Linked DNA regions of Homo sapiens: region 1 is linked to region 2. Evidence: fine-mapped expression QTL. A gene starts in region 2. The other region holds a variant in brackets. All regions are shown on one strand. Distances are between the middles of the regions.

Region 1 (4,258 bases), 85 kb before region 2:
CCTCCATTTTACATCCCTATCAATAATGCATAGGGGTTCCAAATTCTCCACATCCTCATCAACATTTGTTATTTTCCGTTGTTTTTTTTTTTTTTTTTTTAATAATAGTCATCCTAGTGGGTGTGAAGTGGTATCTAATTGTGGTTTTGATTTACATTTCCCTAATGATTAGTGATGTTGAACATCTTTTCATGTGTTTCTTGGCCATCTGTACATCTTCTCTGGAGAAATTTCTATTTAAGTCCTTTGCTCACTATTTTTTTTTTTTTTTTTTTTTTTTTTTGAGACAGAGTCTCGCTCTGTCACCCAGGCTGGAGTACAGTGGCTCAATCTCGGCTCACTGCAACCTCTGCCTCCTGGGTTCAAACGATTCTCCTGCCTCAGCCTCCTGAGTAGCTGGGACTACAGGCACATGCCAACATGCCCGGCTAATTTTTTGTATTTTTAATAGAGATGGAGTTTCACCGTGTTAGCCAGAATGGTCTTAATCTCCTGACCTCGTGATCCGCCCACCTCAGCCTCCCAAAGTACTGGGATTACAGGCGTGAGCCACTGTGCGCGGCCTCTGCCCACTCTTTAATGAGGTTGTTTTTGCTGTGTTGAGTTATAGGAGTTCTTTAGATTATTATGGATATTAATCCCTAATCATAAATATGATTTGCAAATATTTTCTCCCAATCCAGGGTTGCCTTTTCACTCTGTAGATGGCAAAGGAAATTTTGATGTCAAGTAAGCCTAATGTCCTAGAAGCTACTGGCCCCAGGAGGTCAGGATTGAGAGTGAATTCTAGATATCTATAAATTATAACTAGGACCAAAATTACAGTAAGATGAATTTGTAAATGCTAACAGCTGTACCTCAAAAAAAAAAAATTACAGACACAGTGGCTCACATCTGTAATCCCAGCACTTCAGGGGGCCAAAGCAGGAGGATCACTTGAGCCCAGAAATTCAAGACCAGCAACACAGGCTGGGCATGGTGGCTCACGCCTATAATCTCAGCACTTTGGGAGGCCGAAGCGGGCAGATTACTTGAGGCCAGGAGTTCAAGACCAGGCTGGCCAACATGGTGAAACCCCATCTCTACTAAAAATACAAAAAATTAGCCGGGCATGGTGGTGGGCGCCTGTAATCCCAGCTACTAGGGAGGCTGAGGTGGAAGAATCACTTGAACCCTGGAGATGGAGGTTGCAGTGAGCTGAGATCACGCCACTGCACTCCAGCCTGAGGCATAGAGCGAGACTGTCTCAAAAAAAAAAGACCAGCAACACAGCAAGACCCCATCTCTACAAACATTTAAAAATCAGCCAGGTATGATGGCATGCACTTGTGGTCCCAGCTACTTGGGAGGCTGAAGTAGGAGGATCGCTGAGCGCCCAGGAGATCAAGGCTGCAATAAGCCATGATGGTGCCACTTGTACTTCAGCCTGAGCAGCAGAGCAAGACCCTGTCTCAAAAATAAATAAATAAATAAATATTACAAGTTATTTATTTTTAGGGCAAAAATTTTAAATTTTAAGCAAAGAGCTCCCTGTGTTGCTGGAATTATATATCTTAATAACAAAGTAATTTTTAAAAGAAAAGCAGGGCAAAACACCAAAAATAAAAACAAAAGGAAGCCATCCTCAGCAAACTAACACAAGAACAGAAAACCAAACACCACATGTTCTCACTTGTGAGTAGGAGCTGGCCGGGTGCAGTGGCTCATGCCTATAATCCCAGTACTTTGGAAGGCCAAGGCGGGTGGATCACTTGAGGTCACGAGTTCGAGACCAGCCTGGCCAACATGGTGAAACCTCGTCTCTACTAAAACTACAAAAATGAGCCAGGCATGGTGGCGCACGCCTGTAGTCCCAGCTACTTGGGAGGCTGAGGCAGGAAAATGGCTTGAAACCAGGAGGCGGAGGCTGCAGTGAGCTGAGATCAAGCCACTGCACTCCAGCCTGGGTGACAGAGAGAGACTCCATCTAAAAAAAAAAAGTGGGAGCTAAACAATGAGAACACATGGACACAGGGAGGGGAACAACACACACTGGGGCCTGTTGGGGGGTGGAGTGGGGGGAAGGAGAGTATTAAGAAAAGTAGCTGGCCAGACGCAATGGCTTATGCCTGTAATCCCAGCAATTTGGGAGGCTGAGGCGGGTGAATCACCTGAGGTCAGGAGTTCCAGACCAGCCTGGCCGACATGGTGAAACCCCCTCTCTACTAAAAAGGCAAAAATTAGCTGGGCATGGTGGCAGGCACTTGTAATCCTACCTACTTGGGAAGCTGAGGCAGGAGAATCGCTTGAACCCAAGAGGGGGAGGTTGCAGTGAGCCGAGACCATGTTATTGCACTCCAGCCTGGGCGACAACAGCGAGACTCTGTCTCAAAAAAAAATTAAAAAAATAAAAATAGCTAACGCATGCTGGGCTTCATACCTAGGTGATGGGTTTACAGGTGCAGCAAACCACCATGGCACACATTTACCTATATAACAAACCTGCACATCCTGCACATGTACCCAGAAATAAAAAT[TAAA/T]AAAAAAAAAAAAAAAAAAAGATACTCAGTGCTTTTGGGGCAGCAATCTCTTCCAAAAAAGAAAAATAGAAAAGAAAAGCAGTGTATATAGCACTCATCTCTCTCCAAGTTAACCAAAACCTTGCCTTAGTTCATGCATGGAAATTTGAACCCCATGATCAAGTTATCTACTGCCACCTGATGGCAATATTCCTTCACTACATGTTCCGATAGTTTGAAGACTTATAAATTTAATCTGCAAACATGGTGATAGCAGCAATAACATAGAAGCATATTTTGTATTTGTTTTAAAAACAAGATTTTTACTGAATTTGATACATGGAAGAAAGTACAACAACTGTTAAAAATATTAAGCTCACAAAAATTTGGGGTATCAAAACTCACTAGCCTATTGGAAAATCCAGTTTTCTAACAGTTTCCCTAGTCTGTCTCAACTTCCTCACTTCTCCACAGGTTTACCAAATTGCATAAAGAAGTGTGTAACTCGAAGCTGATCAGAAAACAAAAGGGCCTCTTACACTGCTCAGGAATGCAGACTCTGTCCTTAGCCCCTTAGCCCCAGAAGAAAAGGAAGGACCCTTACTTCTACTCCTCACGTCACAGAGCCCCTTCTCTGATGTGCAACACAGCAAAGCACTTTGCAATATAAAAGCTTTTCAACATTTTGTCTTTACCCCCTTATAAACTAGCCCTTTATAGGGTCCCCAAAAAACAGAAGAAAACTTTTTATGCATAAGAAAAATCACATTGTTACATTTCCTAAAAATCAATGCTGAAAACGACAGCCCAGCATACCTACCTTAATAAGCCCACTGAAGGAGCGCGAACGAGCCCTCTTTTGTACCTGGGAAGTAGAAGGTTCTCGCCCTGGTGTCTGGGTCAATGATTGCTTATTAAACTAAAAGAAAACATGGAGAACATTTTATAAATACTTTCCCATCAAGACACGGCATTCTGTGACAACTAATAGCTAAGTGTAAATAAAAGTCCAGGAAAAACTGAGTCTGCGCATAGATGGATTAGGAGGTCAAAAAGCCAATCACAAAGTCAGAAATGATGATGCCAAAAGAAGTGGATTCAAGTGCTCTGAGGGGCTCTGCACGCCACATTCCTTGAATGTGGAATTACTGTCCCCATTCTACAGACAAAAAAACTGAGACTTGGAGAGCTTATGAAATTTATCCACGATCCCCAGCTGCTAACCAAGACTTTTTTGCAACAAAGCATCTTGGAACCACACAGTTACTGGCACAATCTAAAACAGTCCCTAATTTAACATAAATTGCATACAGAATTTTTTTAAGTTACTAAAACTCTTTAAATGGACATCTATCATGACTGCCTGACAACAATACCATCAGAGGAAATACATCAGAATGCAGACTTGTCAATGCTATCAACATCAGCTCTCTGGAGGTATCTAAAGTGGAAAACGAGAAGACCCAATGCATTGAATAATCTTATTCAATGCTTTGATTAGCCATTCATTTCCCACTTAAAAAGTAATAATAATATAGCATTTAACTCTTCTACTCTTCTGCCTTTTCAGATTGTTGATGATGTTGCTGTTGTTGCTGGAGACAGAGTCTCACTCTGTTGCCAGGCTGGAGCGCAGTGGCACAATCTCGGCTCACTGCAACCTCCGCCTCCCAGGTTCAAGCAATTCTCATGCCTCAGCCTGGCGAGTAGCTGGGATTACAGGCGTGCGCCACCACACCCAGCTAATTTTTTCTATTTTT
Region 2 (4,258 bases):
GCAAAACTATCTCTATTTGTAGATGACACGATCTTCTATATAGAAAATCCTAAGGAATCCACAAAAACAAGGTGATGAACCTTATGACACCCTGTAGAAATCCAGATTTCGTAGATTAGAAATCCAATGGCTTTGTTTAAACTGTCTCTTCCTCTGTTTTTACATTTTTTCCTCCACACTTGACAAAAACAAACCCAACTCTTTTTAAACCAACTTCCCTACCTCTTTCCTGCACTCATCCCTTCCTAAAGGTTTGCTCCTATAATTATTATCGTTGGAACTGCCCAACAAGACCCTCGTTTTCTATTTATCTGGATCTCCAGGCTCATTTCTTTCTTTGTATCCTATTTTCTATATCATGCTCAGAATTTTAAAGTTGCTTCCAGGCTGGGCGCGGTGGCTCATGTCTGTAACGCCAGCATTTCGGGAGGAGGGATTGCTTGAGTCCAGGAGTTTGAGACCGGACGGGCCAACATGGCGAAACCCTGTATCCACTAAAAATACAAAAATTAGCCAGGTGTAGTGGCGCGTGCCTATTGTCCCAGCTACTCGGGAGGCTGAGGTGGGAGGATCACCTGATCCTGGGAAGTCAAGGCTGCAATCAGCCAGATCACACCACTGCACTCCAGCCTGGGTGACAGAGTGAAATTCTGTCAAAGAAAGAAAAGAAAGAGAAAGAAAAGGAAGAAAGGAAGGAAGGAAGCGTATCTCCATTTTCATCCAAACAGGTATTTTTCTCTGCTACTACGTACCTCCTCAGAGCCCATCCCCCCTACTGGTCTGAGGCTTTTTTTTAAACAACTTTCTGGACATAGCCCCTCTTAAGACTAACAACCTATAGCCAGGCGTGGTGGCTCACGCTTGTAATCCCAGGATTTTGGGAGGCCGAGGCAGGTGGATCACCTGAGGTCGGGAGTACCAGACCAGCCTGACCAATATGGAGAAACCCCATCTCTGCTAAAAACACAAAATTAGGCTGGGCATGGCGGCGCATGCCTGTAATCCCAGCAACTCGGGAGGCTGAGGCAGGAGAACTGCTTGAACCCAGGAGGCGGAAGTTGTGGTGAGCGGAGATTGCGCCATTGTACTCCAGCCTGGGCAACAAGAGCGAAACTCTGTCTCAAAAAAACAAAACAAAACAAAAAGAGTAGCAACCTAGGCCGGGCGCAGTGGCTCACGCCTGTAATCCCAGCACTTTGGGAGGCTGAGGCGGGTGGATCACCTGAGGTCAGGAGTTCGAGACCAGCCTGGCCAACATGGTGAAACCCCGTCTCTACTAAAAATACAAAAATTAGCCGGGCGTGGTGGTGGGCGCCTGTAATCCCAGCTACTCGGAAGGCTGAGGCAGGAGAATTGCTTAAACGCAGGAGGCGGAGGTTGTAGTGAGTGGAGATCGAGCCACTGCACTCCAGCCTGGGCGATAGAGCGAGACTCCGTCTCAAAAAAACAAACAAACAAATAAACAAAAAGACTAGCAACCTCCTCTCCAGCAATGCCAACCCCAGTCCAGGCCCCCATCCGCCCAGGATCTCGATCAAAAAACATTAATCTGTGGCCTTTCTTTGCCATTTCCAACTCTGCCACCTCCATCGAACGACAAGGTCCCCTTCTTCCTTTCCATTCCCGTCAGCTTCATTTCCCTAATCTCCGTACAAATCCCTAGCCTGACTCCCTTTCCTTTCCATCCTCACCAGACGCCCGCATGCCGGACCTCAAAAGCGCAAACGCTAAAAACCGGTTGAGTTGACGCACGGAGAGAAGGGGTGTGTGGGTGGGTGGGTGTGTGTTAGTGTGCGTGCTTGCTTGTGTGTGGAAGAAACCAACAGGGTTCACGCTGGTGCCCATTTCTGGAAATGCCAATCGCGCCCGACTGCGGGAGCCAGGATCAGGTCCCCAGGGCGCCCTTGCAGACAGCACCCTGAGCGAAGGAGCTCAGAAGGCAGTCCGGCTTCACCCAGACCCCCAATCCCACAGAAGCGCCGTCCCCCAGCGGCACAGCACCCCCTCCCCGGCGCGGTGGTAGGGCCCGACGTGACGTCACCCATTGTTTACAAATCAACCCGAGCCGGCAGGATTCCGGCTCCCGCGGCTGCAGGCGCGCGGCTAGAGTGCCTGGCGGGCTCCGGCTTCCGCGTCCGCCCCGGCCCCGGTCCAGACTTAGTCTTCAGCTCCGCGCCCGCTCCGCCGCGGCCCACCGCGCCCGCCGGCAGCCGAGCCCCCAGCGACGCCCGCACAGCTCCGGGTGCCCAGACAGGGGGCCATGCCGTGCCGGAGGGAGGAGGAAGAGGAAGCCGGCGAGGAGGCGGAGGGGGAGGAAGAGGAGGAGGACAGCTTCCTCCTACTGCAGCAGTCAGTGGCGCTGGGCAGCTCGGGCGAGGTGGACCGGCTGGTGGCCCAGATCGGCGAGACGCTGCAGCTGGACGCGGCGCAGCACAGCCCGGCCTCGCCGTGCGGGCCCCCGGGGGCGCCGCTGCGGGCCCCGGGGCCCCTGGCTGCGGCGGTGCCGGCGGACAAGGCCAGGTCCCCGGCGGTGCCGCTGCTGCTGCCGCCCGCGTTGGCGGAGACTGTGGGCCCGGCGCCCCCTGGGGTCCTGCGCTGCGCCCTGGGGGACCGCGGCCGCGTGCGGGGCCGCGCTGCGCCCTACTGCGTGGCCGAGCTCGCCACAGGCCCCAGCGCGCTGTCCCCACTGCCCCCTCAGGCCGACCTTGATGGGCCTCCGGGAGCTGGCAAGCAGGGCATCCCGCAGCCGCTGTCGGGTCCGTGCCGGCGAGGATGGCTCCGGGGCGCCGCCGCCTCCCGCCGCCTGCAGCAGCGACGCGGGTCCCAACCAGAAACCCGCACAGGCGACGACGACCCGCACCGGCTTCTGCAGCAGCTAGTGCTCTCTGGAAACCTCATCAAGGAGGCCGTGCGAAGGCTTCATTCGCGACGGCTGCAGTTACGTGCAAAGCTTCCCCAACGCCCGCTCCTGGGACCTCTGTCGGCCCCGGTGCATGAACCCCCTTCGCCTCGCAGCCCTCGCGCGGCCTGCAGTGACCCTGGCGCCTCCGGGAGGGCGCAGCTCAGAACTGGCGACGGCGTTCTTGTGCCTGGCAGCTAACACGCCCGGGGTGGCCACAGCGCCAGCCTCAGACTGGAGGGCAAGGGGTTCCCTTGAGGGCTGCAGTTCTACTCAGGCTGGTGGAGAACTCTGGCTTTTGGAAGCGAGAGTAAAAAGCTAATGACGAGGAACCGAAAAATCGCGAGTGTTTCGCGGGTAACTGGGGTTGAGGGCCAAAATATTTGGAATGAAGGACTTTGGCCCTATTTAAGGCAGATTTTACAGAGCGCACCTCAAACGTACAAGTCAGTAGGACTCCTTATTTGGCGTGACCCGACCTGGCCGCGGAGCCTGCATTTCCTCGCAGCCTCTCAGTGCCCTCCAGCCCCGCGACCATGTGGCCACAATCCACGCTTCTCCGGATCGCGGTGCGCCGGAACCACGGAGGATGATGCCAGTTACTTGCTTTACCTTTTCAGGGCTGGCTCCTGATCCACTTTGGGGGAGGAGAACATGAGTAGATAATTTCAGGGTGCAGCCCAATCTGCCAGACTTAAAAAAACCATCTTGTGTCTTTGGAGGTGCTGCTTAATACCAAACATGCGGTGCCATGAAGGGACCCTTTGGGGGTTGAATAGGAGTTAACCCCTGCGCTCTCTTTGCAACTGTCTCTCTTCTCAGAGTGGTGGGGGAAGGCTGTACGACACGGGTGGGGAAAGGAGGTGGGGGCGGGGAGTATTGAATGGTGGTGGAAGGGTAGAGAGGCGCGGAGTGAACCCCACGCCCTGTCTAAAGTGTATTTTCAGAGCCGGCCCGCCTCTCCTCGGTTCAAGGTCACTGTTTCCTGGGCACGCACTGGGTTGCGGGACAGAGTAGCCAGGTTCTGCCGGTGCTCGGAGAAGAGCGCAGTGTTTTGCAAGTGCTGGAGTCTCCTGAGGACACGCGCGTCGCCGCCACCGCGGGTGTGGGAAAGCGCGGACGTGCTGGGCGGCTGTGCTTCGGTAGGCGACCACCGCCCCTGGCCGCGCTCCGGGCTTTCACGGAAACTCCCGAGACCGGGCCCTGGGTTCCTCCTCTCCTACTCGGCTCTGCAGTCCTACTCAAGCGGGTGGCTCTGGGATCCTGGGGGCCTGGGTTGGGGGCTAGGGAGACGCCATGTGATGGACACTCCAGGGACACACAGCCTAGCACAGCAGCTTATAATGGGCTCTCCGGGGC

Which allele goes with the higher level. Positions count from the first base shown, and alleles are read on the strand shown. Sizes are in standard deviations (SD) of each study's normalised expression.
For the expression in B cells of the gene that starts at base 2,078 in region 2, TAAA is the high allele of the variant in region 1 and T is the other (moderate effect, 0.52 SD a copy in Schmiedel 2018).

The links. PIP is the estimated chance that this variant, and not a neighbour inherited with it, causes the effect. A credible set is the group of variants that fine-mapping cannot tell apart.
Region 1: its variant is the best candidate, but not a certain one, in a credible set for the expression of FRAT1 in B cells (Schmiedel 2018, PIP 0.60).

The regions. Positions count from the first base shown.
Region 1 is chr10:97,231,899-97,236,156 of GRCh38, forward strand. ARHGAP19 (Rho GTPase activating protein 19) reads right to left here. Exons shown (of 12, transcript NM_032900.6): 9 at 3,319-3,417. It overlaps ARHGAP19-SLIT1 (ARHGAP19-SLIT1 readthrough (NMD candidate)), which reads right to left. Exons shown (of 15, transcript NR_037909.1): 9 at 3,319-3,417. Among named protein-coding and RNA genes, the nearest start is that of SLIT1, 48 kb to the left of the region's middle. The variant TAAA/T (reference allele first, on the strand shown) is at 2,517.
Region 2 is chr10:97,317,194-97,321,451 of GRCh38, forward strand. FRAT1 (FRAT regulator of Wnt signaling pathway 1) reads left to right here and starts at 2,078. Exons shown (of 1, transcript NM_005479.4): 1 at 2,078-4,258. The coding sequence starts at 2,261. The coding sequence ends at 3,100. RefSeq lists enhancers at 1,392-2,181, 1,919-2,213, 3,303-3,462 and silencers at 2,053-2,362, 2,863-2,962.